Regions from separate parts of the Homo sapiens genome. Here region 1 is reported to be linked to region 2. The links are microRNA targets in miRTarBase. Many come from high-throughput screens and were not tested one by one. Region 2 holds a microRNA gene; the other region holds the end of a gene's coding sequence.
What was found. The annotated mature microRNA hsa-miR-30d-5p reads UGUAAACAUCCCCGACUGGAAG and lies in region 2 at 5,236-5,257, shown strand. An mRNA with a match to its seed (bases 2 to 7 or 8) in the 3' UTR can be bound and repressed. Matches are read on the target gene's strand: a 7mer-m8 pairs with bases 2 to 8, a 7mer-A1 pairs with bases 2 to 7 and ends in A, and an 8mer does both.

Region 1: the mRNA of MZT1 is a reported target of hsa-miR-30d-5p. Seed matches in the 3' UTR shown: 8mer at 6,249-6,256 and 8mer at 4,638-4,645.

What each region holds. Positions count from the first base shown.
Region 1 is chr13:72,703,878-72,711,001 of GRCh38, forward strand. It overlaps MZT1 (mitotic spindle organizing protein 1), which reads right to left. Exons shown (of 3, transcript NM_001071775.3): 3 at 4,490-6,468. The coding sequence ends at 6,445. It also overlaps the pseudogene RPL21P110 and the pseudogene RNU6-80P. Among named protein-coding and RNA genes, the nearest start is that of MZT1, 20 kb to the right of the region's middle.
Region 2 is chr8:134,803,052-134,810,175 of GRCh38, reverse strand. It overlaps MIR30D (microRNA 30d), which reads left to right and starts at 5,231; the gene lies at 5,231-5,300. It also overlaps a transcript of ZFAT not described here.

The DNA of each region.
Region 1 (7,124 bases), not on the chromosome of region 2:
ATCCAGCAGGCTGCTGGCAGTGTTGTCAACAAGTTAAGGGCAAGATTCTTGCCAAGAGAACTAAGAACACATTAAGTACTCTAAGAGTTGAGACAGCTTCTTGAAACATGTGAAGGAAAATTATCAGAAAAAGAAGCCAAAGAGAAAGGTACCTGGGTGCAACTGAAGTGCCAGCCTGCTCCACCCAGAGAAGCACACTTTGTGAGAACCAATGGGAAGGAGTCTGAGCTGCTGGAGCCTATTCCCTATAAGTTCATGGCACAATAGGTGTTAAAATAAAAGACCTCTGGACTGCTAAAAAAAAAAAAATTCTGCCCTATTCTAATGGACAGTGTCACTTGTTAACAGATTTCCTGAGACTGCTATTTAGGGCTGTCACATGCACCATCTTTTTTTTTTTTTTTTTTTTTAATTAAAGTTCTAGGGTACATGTGCACAACATGCACGTTTGTTATATATGTATACATGTGCCATGTTGGTGTGCTGCACCCATTAACTCGTCATTTACATTAGGTATATCTCCTAATGCTTTACCCGACCCCCTCCCCCCACCCCAGGACAGGCCCCAGTGTGTGATGTTCCCCTTCCTGTGTCCAAGTGTTCTCATTGTTCAGTTCCCACCTATGAGTGAGAACATGCGGTGTTTGGTTTTCTGTCCTTGAGATAGTTTGCTGAGAATGATGGTTTCCAGCTTCATCCATGTACCTACAATGGACATGAACTCATCCTTTTTAATGGCTGCATAATATTCCATGGTGTGTATGTGCCACATTTTCTTAATCCGGTCTATCATTGATGGACATTTGGGTTGGTTCCAAGTCTTTGCTATTGTGAATAGTGCCGCAATAAACATATGTGTGCATGCATCTTTATAGTAGCATGATTTAAAATCCTTTGGGTATATACCCAGTAAAGATGACTGGGTCAAATGGGATTTCTAGTTCTAGATCCTTGAGGAATCACCACACTGTCTTCCACAATGGTTGAACTAGTTTACAGTCCCACCAACAGTGTAAAAGTGTTCCTATTTCTCCACATCCTCTCCAGCACCTGTTGTTTCCTGACTTTTTAATGATCGCCATTCTAACTGGTGTGAGATGGTATCTCATTGTGGTTTTGATTCGCATTTCTTTGATGGCCAGTGATGATGAGCATTTTTTCATGTGGCTGTTGGCTGCATAAATGTCTTCTTTTGAGAAGTGTCTGTTCATATCCTTTGCCCACTTTTTGATGGGGTTGTTTTTTCTTGTAAATTTGTTTGAGTTTTTTGTAGATTCTGGATATTAGCCCTTTGTCAGATGAGTAGATTGCAAAAATTTTCTCTCATTCTGTAGGTTGCCTGTTCACTGTATGGTAGTTTCTTTTACCGTGCAGAAGTTCTTTAGTTTAATTAGATCCCATTTGTCAATTTTGGCTTTTGCTGCCATTGCTTTTGGTGTTTTAGACATGAAGTCCTTGCCCATGCCTATGTCCTGAATGGTATTGCCTAGGTTTTCTTCTAGGGTTTTTATGGTTTTAGGTCTAACATTTAAGTCTTTAATCCATCTTGAATTAATTTTTCTATAAGGTGTAAGGAAGGGATCCAGTTTAGCTTTCTACATATGGCTAGCCAGTTTTCCCAGCACCATTTATTAAACAGGGAATCCTTTCCCCATTTCTTGTTTTTGTCAGGTTTGTCAAAGATCAGATGGTTGTAGATATGCAGCATTATTTCTGAGGGCTCTGTTCTGTTCCATTGGTCTATATCTCTGTTTTGGTACCAGTACCATGCTGTTTTGGTTACTGTAGGCTTGTAGTGTAGTTTGAAGTCAGGTAGCGTGATGCCTCCAGCTTTGTTCCTTTGGCTGAGGATTGTCTTGGCAATGTGTGCTCTTTTTTGGTTCCATATGAACTTTAAGGTAGTTTTTTCCAATTCTGTGAAGAAAGTCATTGGTAGCTTGATGGGGATGGCATTGAATCTATAAATTACCTTGGGCAGTATGGCCATTTTCATGATTCTTCCATGAGCATGGAATGTCCTTCCATTTGTTTGTGTCCTCTTTTATTTCGTTGAGCAGTGATTTGTAGTTCTCCTTGAAGAGGTCCTTCACATCCCTTCTAAGTTGGATTCCTAGGTATTTTATTCTCTTTGAAGCAATTAAAAATATGGAACACTTCACGAATTTGTGTGTCATCCTTGTGCAGGGGCCATGCTAATCTTTGCTGTATCGTTCCAATTTTAGTGTATGTGCTGCCAAAGTGAGTACCACATGCACCATCTTTTTTACAACATTTACAATACTCCAGTCTGGTATATATGAGCCCAACAGTGAACTTCATAAAAGAGAGATCTTTTTGTTGTTAGAACTGGGTTTCTCAAGTATAGCACCTCTGGAAAGGGAATGACTTTAACCTGTTATTTATTTACATTGTTGTAATTAAAAAGCAGTAATATAGATCTGCTGAGATGCTACAAAACTTCACCAACCTACCATCATCAATGGTATATTCCCTAAGAATGGGACAATCCTGGGAAAGAGAAGCATCTGTCACTAGTCTTCTATTAAATTCTCAGCATCTACATCCAGAGCTTCGACTACCACTTTGGCCATCTGATTTTCAATCTCCTTCATCTTCCTCTCCAGTTGTGCCTCTTCATCCCATGAGATGATGTATAGTAACAGGCACTAAGGTGTGTGGGCTCCAGACTCAATTTACCAGGGTTCAAATCCTGGCTCTACCACTTCTGAGATTTAAGTTGTATACCACTTTGTGCCTCAGCTTCCTGACCTATAATAGGATGATGCTATCTATCTCTCGTGGTTGCTGTAAGCCTAAAGGTTAAACAATTTGATCTATTAAAAGCACCAAAACCAGTGCCTTGCATGCAGCAAGTTCTCAATGTTAGTTATTTTCAACCACGTGGTACATGTTGTTTCCTGGATGCCCAGTCTATCCATTCATTCAGCCAACATGTATTTATTGAGCATTTCTTATGTGCTAGGCACTGTTCAAGACACTTAAGATACACCAGTGGCAACACAGAAATATCCCCGCCCCTGTGGGACTTTCAGGTAGAGGTATATTTGTTTATATTAATAGATAAAACTAAGTAAATTGTATACTATGTTAGAGAGTGGTAATGCTGTAGGACAAAAAAAAATGGAGATGGGCAATGGTCTTTGGAAGATTGGCAAGGTTTAAGATTTAATATATATGTTAAACACAATACTCTTTAAATAAAAATCATTTTTTTCCAGGAAAATTATATTCCCTTCTTGATTTCCATTTGCTGATAATATCTTTGTTACCCAGGCTTAGAAACTCAGTCACCTTATTTTCTTTTCTATTTTCCCCATAACCTGCCATTAAGTCCTATGTTTATTTTTTGTAATGTCTCTTGAATCTACCCAGATGTGAGCATTGAGGCCTGGGTTACTCAGTAGTGTTCTAACTAGTCTCTGCTTCTAACCTCTCCCTGCTCAAATCAAGCCTACATGTCACTAGCAAAGCAACTCCCAAAAAAAGCTTGACCATGTCCCCTTCTTTCTCTAATGCCTATGGAATTAAAGTTAAACTTAAAAAAAAATGTTTAAAAGCTGGCAATTCCACTGCTGGGTATACACTCCAAAGAACTGACAAGGACCTGAACAGTTATTTGTATACCAATGCCCATAACATTGTGGCTATTGTGAATAGCCTTTTCAGAATAGACAAAAGGTAGAAACAACCCAAATGTCCACCATATATATAAAAGAATACCTGTCTCCCATGTATATATGAGACATATTCATCCTTAAAGAGGAAATCTGGATACATGTTATAACATGGATAGATCTTGGAGACGTGCTGTGTAAAATAAGACGAACACAAAAGGACAAATATGATTCCACTTATATGAGGTATCCAGAATAGTCAAATTCATTGACAAAAAAGTAGGAAACTGTTTACCAGGGGCTGGGAGGAGGAAGCAATGGGGAGTTACTGCTAAACAGGTACAGAGTTTCAGTTTGGGATAAGAAAGTTCAAGAGATGGACAATAGTGATAGTTACAATACAATAAGAATATTCTGAATGTCACTGAACTATGAAACTTAAAAATGGTTAAAAAGGGCAGGGCATTGTAGCTCATGCCTATAATCCCAGCACTTTGGGAGGTTGAGGCAGGCAGATCATCTGAGGTCAGGAGTTTGAGACCAGCCTGGCCAACATGGTGAAGCCCCGCCTCTACTAAAAATACAAAAAATTAGCCAGGTATGGTGGCAGGTGCCTGTAATCCCAGCTACTCGGGAGGCTGAGGCAGGAGAATCATTTGAACCCAGGAGGCGGAGGCTGCATTGAGCCAAGATCATGCCAATGCACTCCAGCCTGGGTGACAGAGTGAGACTCCATCTCAAAAAAAAAAAAAAAAAAAGGTTAAAATGGTAAATTTTATGTTCTGTATCTTTTGTCCTATAGAAACACAAGTTGAATTAACAAAAGCATATATTAAAACAAAAGTACAGGCCAATACCACCAAAATGGTTTTATTTTTGTCATTGACAACAAGCACAACACTGCAATTGTATCATTATTTTGTTTAGTTTCTTAAATATTACTTAAGTATGCATTAAAAATATGTTTACATTTTAAAAATGTGACACTTTAAAGAAGTCCTCTGTAAACACGATCCCTTCTCAATATATTTTCCTGCTTTGTTTCATACATAAATAACTTAATCTACAAAGTCATAAATAATACTATCAACTCTTATGGCCTGGAAGTATATACAAATTTTGGAGTCTGACAAAAGTGTTCTTTATGATTTTATAAATAACACATAGTATTTGTAGTGTTGATTATAAATCAAATGACTTTTTACAAATTCCTACTGTCTCCTCAACCTGTTCTACCAGTAACAGATCTTCCAGTTTACTTGGTTGGTAAAGATGCCAGGCATTTAAAAAGTCAAAATGGTCAAAATTCTATATTAAAAAAAAAAAAAGGCAGAGAAGGTTGCTATTTAAATATTACCAAATCTTAATAAAACCACTTCAGCTTGTCTGAAAAACAAAAAATGCTAGTAAAGAGTGAATGCTTGTACAATCATATAAATGGTACTCAATAAAATCTAAAATTTAAGAAATAATAAAATCAGATGAAATCCATATTAGTTTTGCAAAAAAACTCCACTGAGATTCTATTACAGGAACAGAATCAATACTATTCTACATTTTCTAAAATTTATTTCTAATCTTCACTTTGATGAGTTAAAATTTTAAAGGCAAGAATAATGACAAACAAAACAATTCTGAAAAGCCATACTTATAATCCTTGACATCAAGATGTTAAAAAGGTTTTTTAAAAAAAGCCATACTTGAGATTCCTAATATAGAACATTTGATTGTTTAGTTTTGTTTAATGACTGGAAATCCTTATTTCTTCAAAAAATAGCAAGTATCCTTTGAAACACATCACCCATCTAATAAGATTGTTTAGTTTTGTTTAATGACTGGAAATCCTTATTTCTTCAAAAAATAGCAAGTATCTTTTGAAACACATCACCCATCTAATAATTTATTAAATAACCATTCAAGATTTATTAGGTAAGCACTAAAATTACTTTTATGTAATAAAAGTAAATAGGAATTTTGCATGTTTGTTGTTTCATTTTACAAATTTTTTTATTCCGTTATTTATAGGATATAAAACTTTAAGAAAACATTCTCAACTAACATTCTCATTAGATGTAAATGATTCAAATTACAAATAATACTAACCTAAGCATTGTCATTACTTTTAAAATCCAAGTTTCTCAAAGTTTGATTTTTTTACTCAATACAAAAATGACCTGGTTCACACTATTAGCTGCCCAACAAACTGTTTGAAAAACTAAATATTCTTTGTTCAAGAGTAGATTACAAGAAATGTTTTCCATGCTCTTATTTCAAAAAACAAGATTCTGATATACATAATGAATCTAAATAAAAATTCACAAGTGGTGGCTGAAATCCTGTCAACTTTCAGCCCAATACAATATAAATCCACAGTTATAATGCATAAACAATTCAAAATTAAAGTTTATAATGGAAATGTCAACAAGTCATAACTACTACACATTACTACTGATGGGTTCCACTATACTTCAACCTGGCACAGCAGATGTGCACATCTGATAGACAGACTGCTTAGAAAATTAAAGCTATCAGAGCTATAAATAAGGAATACATAAATATGAACATAGCAATGCCAAAGCATTAGAGCTGTTAAAAAAAGTGAATAAGATGTGATGTAAACACATCTGATAGTTCTCTCTGTAAGCCACTTTCCACTGATTTATAAAGCTATGGTTTTATAATTCTTTTAAAAAGTAAAATTTTTCTACACTGCTGCATGCAGTAATTTCATTGTACATTCTCAACTACAATGCAATCTTCAAACCCTCTTGCAGAGCTTGACATATCTCATCAGAATTTCTCCAGAAAGTCAGCTTGTCATATTTTCAGCAGCCTAGAACAAGAAAGTAAGATTCATTACAATAAAACCATGGAAAAAGAGGCATCATGAAGATAAATTTGTCAATACTGCACTGTCATTAACAAACAACTATTCCCCATAAAACAGAACCACTTTTATCACAGTAATGCAGTGCTTTTCATGTTTTGCTATACATCAGGACTACCTTTTGAATGTACAGTTAACAGTCCACAGGCTAACAGTGGAAAATAGTTATATCACCTAAAATAATAGTTAAGAGCACAAAAAACATACTGCTACTTGAAACATTAACCTATGGCAGACCTGTTGCCACAGACTTCATTAGTTTGTCTGTTTCTGTGTTTTATTCTAGTAATAGGGATTAAAAATGAAAAAGACCTTTCATGCTACAAGGCAGAGAGAACAAGAGCAAAAGATGAATAATGAACATCTTATCTAATCCTGTCTCATCTACATCCCTAACTACTACTCTTTCCCAGGTGATTCTGAAGAAATTCCAAGATACCATATCATCAATAAATACTTTGATACATTATTTCTAGAGACTTAAACAAATCACCATACTATTATCCTACCTAAAAAATTTCTTAACATCAATATAAAAAGATATAATTTTAAATAAGTTTAATTTTAGAAATATGTGTTAGTATTTTAATTCATTTACCTTT
Region 2 (7,124 bases):
AGGATTCTTGGAAATTTAAATGTATTATTGTATGTATGAATCATGGAACGCACTATAGAATCTATAGTGGTTATCAGTTTTGTTTTGGGTGTAGTTCATGGTGTTTAGTTAAGTCTCTAAAGCAGAGTTTAGGATCTCTGCCTTTCAGTTATCTGAGTGCTGTGGGGCTACATACCCACTCAGATTCTCTTGTTCTAAGTGGTCTTAACACTCAGTTAGCTCTATGTGTTGGTGGTGACAAATTTTACTATATTTATGACCTAGGTCTTTGAGTGGGCACTGTTTCAAGAATCTAGGAAGGTACTGGCTACTATTCAACTCACTGTCGGTTTCAATTATGGTCAGAGAATTTTGAAAACAAAAATTCTGAATGCCCTATAGTTTAATAAAAAGTAGTTGATCCTTTTGTTCAAAGCACTGTCCCACTTCACCTCCCCTCTAGGTTTGAAGCATTCCTATGCAGACAGTTTACCGACATGATAAACAAAATTATCCATTCATGCATCCTAGGATTTTAATGTTACCATCGCCCTCCACTCAAAATGCAATATGCATTTAGTCTGTAATAGCATCACTCCATTTTAAGTGAATAGTTGTTTCAGCTTTGATTTGTAATCACAATTAAGGTAAATTATCCTTGTTTGCCTAGGACTGTCCTGGTTTTAAAACTCAAAATCTCTTGTCCAAGGAACCCTCACAGTCCCGGACAAACCAGAACAATTTCTTAAAATACTATTTAGGAAAACTGGTCACCCGAACGGCAAGGCTGTGTTGTTGATTAGGCTTTAGGCATGTTATTGAGACTATAGACTAAGCTCAGATCAATGGTTTTGAAGATTCTGTATGGGTCAGGATTACCTGGAGTACTTGTTAAACAGACTGCTGGCTCCCATCCCCCTAGTTTGGATGGAGTAGGTCTGTGGTGGGGGTCTGAGAATTACTTTAGTAACAGTTGCCTAAGCCATGCTGACGCTGCTGGTTAGGAGAGTGCATTGAGAACCACTGGCCTAGATCAGGCTGTGTGCTGTGTGAGTATATGATGATGCTTGGTTCAGAATTGTGGAGAAAGGGGAGCTGTGTTTCTCTGCCTCACAGGTCTAAGCACCAATAACACCAAAGGGTATTTGTATCTGAACTGTGCTCATACAGCACAAGAAGAGACGTGCTCCTGTTAGAGGTGACAGAAGTAGGGGAAGGATTAAAAACAGTCTAGCTGTCAAATCCTTCACAGTATGGATATATTTTGATTGTTTATAGTATCTTAGGCAAACTTTGATTTGATAATTAATTTGAGTCTTATAGTCACAACATCTGAAATGGATACTTCAGAAAGCAGATATTCATTATTATAGCAGAACTGATTATAGCTGGGTTTAGCAGGGATAATGGTACCCATCTTGCCTACTTCTCAGTTATCACTGTAAAAATCTAGTTACATAAAAGGTGTGAGCATGCGGTACAAATAAGATGTCATGGTGATGATTAAAGTGTACTTTGTTGTTGGACAGTATGTTTCACAGTGCTTTCATCTTCATGTTCCATTTGGTTGTTTTCAGGTGTCTTCAGAATTCGGCAAAGTAGATGGGACTGCAGACGTTACCATTCCCTGTGACTCTTGCTACGATCTTACAGACTTCATTGTGCTGGGCTTAGATGTCTTCAGAGTCACCAGGTACTTGGTTGTTCCTAGATAGTGGGCCTGCCTGATCAGGATTTGGTATTTTTCCCACTGAATTAAAATTGTTTTGCCTAAGCCTCATTTTGTGTGTCAAGAAAATAAAGGCAAAAGAGTAAGTGCTGTGCTCCTAATCCACAGCTAGCTGGTAGTCAGCAGCCTGGGAGGCTGAGTCTCTGGTCTCCTAGTCTCAACCTTCTAGGCAGTGAGCATTGTTAATCACAGAACAGGCCCTCCTTGGACTCCTTGGCTTGCTCGTCTTTGTTTCTCCCAGGGCCTAGCGTTCACATCCACACACATACTACATACGTTTCTGCATGTGTGCATGTGCATGTCAGGGAAACCACAATTTGTTCTCAGCTCCTTACTCATGTGAGCTTAGCGAAATCGTTTCTCCAATCTGTACCTTCTTCTTCATCTGTAAAATAGAATTATCATCTGCTCTGCTACTACCCTTAAAAGTAGTTACTGCATAAGGATGAGAAAATGTATAAAAACACTTTGAAGCTTTTGTTACAAAGGGCAGTTAGTAATAATGAGTAAATGATAAATAAGCCTTATAGAACAGGAAGCCTTTTCATCTTTCTGTCCTAAACACCCTTCTATTTTATAAATTTTTCAAGTAGATTAAGTTTATTAATTTAGATAATGTTTTCTTTTTCTTTTTGTCTCTGCTCTATTTATTTAACATTGGATATATAGAGAATGGTAATTATTATTGAATGGATTGAAAACAAGAATAGAGTCTCTTTGGGAGTATCTGTGTTTTTTGTTTTTTTTTTTTTCCATGTAATTGGGGGCATTTTCTGCTCCATGGTCGGTTTCTGGTGGTTTGTGAATTCTTGCCTTCTGCCAAGTGTTTTCTCCCTGTCACCACCCTGCTACTACTCTTTGTGTTTACCTTCCCAGCTGCCCTGCCTTATTTCAGAGTTCAGAGTCAAATTGTAGCCAACCATTTCTGACAGCCTTCCTAGACATCACTGAATTTCAGCTAATTAATAGATTTAAGGGATGCGAAATCTAGGCCAATTCAGAATTTTACTTCATTTGAGGGTTTTTTTTCCAGAATATTTATCTTAAGTTACAAAATGTTGTTTCCTGTTAATTGTTTTCTTATGTATTCTGGTAAAATTTTATAAACCCAGTAAAACTCTCTTACAACAATACTCTTGGGAGATAATGGCTTGTATTCGTTCTGGATTGTCACATAGGAAGAGATGTGTTTAGGTATCTAACTTGGTTTCAGCATTGTACTTGAGACATCTGTGGTAGGACAGAATCTGTGGCAAATGTGGCATGGCATACATTATATATGGATATTCATAAACTGCTTTTGATAGATTGACAAACATTTCCAGTTACTGAACCAGTAGCACTGTTCCAGTCAGTAGCTCAGTAATATCCATTTTTTTGTCTGTACAGCAGATTGTATGTATGCATGTGTGTTTTGCCCATTTTTATAAAAATGTGTTAAAAGTAAAATGCTAATGCTGATAGAAAATTGACCCGCAAATATGTAATGTTTTTGACAAAGATGGAAATCATAAAGCATGCCAAAAATGGTAAACCTTTAGCTTCAGCTATCCCCTCATTAGACTTTACCTTCTTACTGTGTATTATTACAAAGATTGTGTCTAGAAGATACTTTATAATGATAGAAGGTATTTTATAATAGGGTTTCTTATCACATATACTTAATATTCAACTTCTGTACATTTAATTTTCATGTTTCCTCAAGAATATATTATACAAAGTCATAGCATTTGACAAAATTCCTTCATAACTCTGAAGAAAATATTCTATGTATTGTTTGTGTGAGTTAAATACAGTGGCTCTGATAAAAATGTCTTTTGATCAGTCTTTAAAAAAATTAAACTGAGGACAGGAAGGTAAATTAAAGGGGAGATTTGGAGACTTGTGGTAACTGGTTTATTGCAACTTAATGTGCAGCATCCTCATTAGTCAAGTATCATGTGCCTACCTAGGCATGAAATAGCTATTTTTTTCCTGATTTAAATCTGGAAAGTTTCAGTTGTAGTACAGTTTGAATAGTTGTTGTTGTAAATAGCCACTGGACTTTTTAAAAAAGTATTTTTCTTCAAAAACAGTGAAGGTCATCTTGTATCCATAGAGACCACATGTACTTTCCTCATTATTTCCAGCATTATTTATATAATGGGTAGAGTTATTTACAACATTAAACAAAAAGTATTTCAGAGAGCAACCGTTAAATATTATCACAGGGTAAATATCAGCAACTGAAATCCTTTTCTCATAGTTTCTCAAAAAATTTGGTATTAGGAAATTAATAGTCTCTCAGAATTTGTATATTGGTTTTCTTCAGTAGTTATTCTGTAGAGTGTGTGTGTACATATGCATGCTCATGTATGTATGTATGTTCATTTCTTAAATCATTTCATAAATCACTGTGACTTAATTGTGGACTTTAATTGTTTTCATAGTTTTTTTCCCCAAAAGAAGGTTACTTTACATATTTTATTTTATTTTTATTTTTATTTTTTTTGAGACAGGGTCTCACTCTGTCGCCCAGGCTGCAGTGCAGTGGCATGAGCTCAGCTCACTGCAGCCTCCACCTCCCAAGCTCAGGGATCCTCTTACCTCAGCCTCCCGAATAGCTGGGACCGCATGCACCACCACACCCAGCTAATATGTTGTATGTTTTTAGAGGTAGGGTTTTGCCACTTAGCCCAAGGCTGGTCTTGAACTCCGGGACTCAAGCGATCTACCCATCCACCTGCCTCGGCCTCCCAAAGTGCTGTGATTATAGACATGAGCCACTGTGCCTGGCAATTTTACATATTTTAAATTAAAGCAAATCTTGGTTTTTGATGGAATGCAGATTTACTTATATTTCACTTAGTCTTTTTCCTTTCTTTCAGAAAAGTGGTGTGGAAACAAAATGGTTTTAGTATATTGCCTTATAAACAAATTTAAGATCATGAGTTTCTTTTATTATCCTCTTTGTTTTGCTCATTTCCTTGAACTGTACATCCCTAACCTAAATCAGCTGGAGACAGGGGAAGAAAGTGTTAGATTCTTACTCAGTTTAGATCCTCTGCCAGGAAAACCCACTCTATTCATTGTCAACTAAATTAACGCTTTTTTAAATAAAAGGAGTCATTTTTAACAATAACGTCAGGGCAGCAGGCATCCATGAAATGTATGGTCACTGATCATTAGGGTTATCATTCTAATGTGTTTACTATTTTGAAACTCTAGGGAGAAGAAAACTTATTTTTGCATATGTTGGAAAAATGTATCCTCATGTAGGATATCAGGGTAATATCTTTAATGTTTCATACTTACCAAGATAAATTTGTAATGCGTATTTTCTTTTAAAATTAGATTTATTTAGGAGAAATTGCACTTGGTGAACCACTTTCTCTTTAATTATTAGCATTAACTTTATCATTTTTGTTTCAAGATGTCACAGCTATTGTTCAGCACTAGAAATTATATAAATTATTAGCTGAAGATGATGACTGGCAACATTTATGTCTGTTCCTCCTCTTAAATTTCTTGTTCAGAAAGTCTGTTGTTGTAAACATCCCCGACTGGAAGCTGTAAGACACAGCTAAGCTTTCAGTCAGATGTTTGCTGCTACCGGCTATTCACAGACATCCTCTTGATATAATTCTGTCCCGGAGTGGAGTTGAGGAGGCTATAAAATGTGTGGGAAAACCTCAGAAATCTTTAGCTGCATTCTTTTACTGCACTGACAGTGCACGTATTATGATAGTTGAATGTAGGGTGCTCTCCTAATAACAGGATATGCCGTCTCGAGCTTCCCAGACTTAGCGTGCTGCTGCTGGGCCTTAGAGAATTTAGTTAAATAAAAAGTGTCACCGCCTATTCCTGTTTCTGCCCTGTCAATGAAATTTTAGTCTTTATAACCTTTCCAAGTAGGCTGGAGTTTAACATCCCAACAATTCAGGAGACTGATTTTCTCCATTGTAAATTCTGTGGAAGTTCTGGAGAATAATTTCATCACTACCACCCAGCAGTATGCAATCTAGAAATTTCAGCTTTCCCTATACTTAAAAGAGATGTGTGTGCAACATTTTTCTCCGTCCTCTTAGCCCCCCACTTCCTGTTCCCCTCACCCTGAGTGATATTACAGCTCCTAATCAGAACTCTCCTCTAAGAAAAACTGCAAGACGTCAAGCCACTAAGCCTGTTTACATTTGCTAATGGGTATGCATGTCTTTTTATATTAATATTTTTCCTAAGTATTTTCAGATTGTTGCTTTCAGATTTATTGCTTCCTCCTTAAAATATAGCTGCCCTGAAAGCAGCTGTATTGTATCTATTTTTTGTGTTTCCCCACAGATCTGAATAATCCAGGGCTTTTCTCACAGATGACACTCAGTGTGGACTAATTGATAATGTATAATTTTATAGCAACTATTTTCTGAGTTTTAAAAAATTGTTATTTTATTTCTGTTAGTCTTTCAGACACTGGAAAACATTTCTATTTTATTGGCATTTTTCTTTTCAATAAAGCATTGGTTTTTTTAAATCATTTATTTTTATTAAACTGCTAAACATACTATGTTAGGTTCCATACATGATTAAACCACCAAAAGATAAAGGTCTTGCCAATCTAATGTATTTACATGCTTATTTTCTTTGATTAGATTATAAGCTTTCTGAGGTCAGAGACATTAAATCTTGATAATTCTATTTTTTCCTGTTATAAACAGCAAGTAAAGCACCTTGCATGTATAGTACTTTAGTAATGATTTTATATTATCTTATTGCAGCAGTGTCTACTGTTGCCTCTTATCTTTTATCCAGATGAGCAAATGACAGTTTTGGTCATAATGTAGTTACCCCAGATGTATTTGTGCTACAGCTTTTATTTTTTAAATGCTCTTTTGTTAGAGTAGTAGTTTATAAGACTTATTTGGGGATGGGGGTCAGTTGCTTCAGACTCAGGTGGCTTTCCAACTTGTAAATACAATTTTCAGGCTGGATGATTAGCATGCATCAAGCATCCCTTCCTATGAACTCTAAATAAAGCAGATTTATTGCATATTCTGTGGCCCTCTGTTTTAGCACATTGGAAACCTTAGACTCAAATAGCAGTGAAAGGATAGTTATTGCTGAGCTCAGAAGTCTTCCCTGCCAAAGGTAGAATGTAATGTGTTCTGTGGTAATAGGATTATTTTGTTTGACCAGGTGACACTGTTTATTTCTTATGAAAAATTTTGATATACTGCTTTAAAATTTAGTAAGATGGATGCATAATTTATGCAGTGAAATTTGAAAGGTTTTTCAAAATGATAAGGCCAAACCTAAGCTAAATGAGGGGGTAGGCATTCTTTATAATAAAGCTGTTATACTCTGCCCAGCTAGGCCAGTTATCCCTAGATGCTACAGATTAATGGGGCAATCTGTGTTATGTAACATTTGTTCTATATTATTC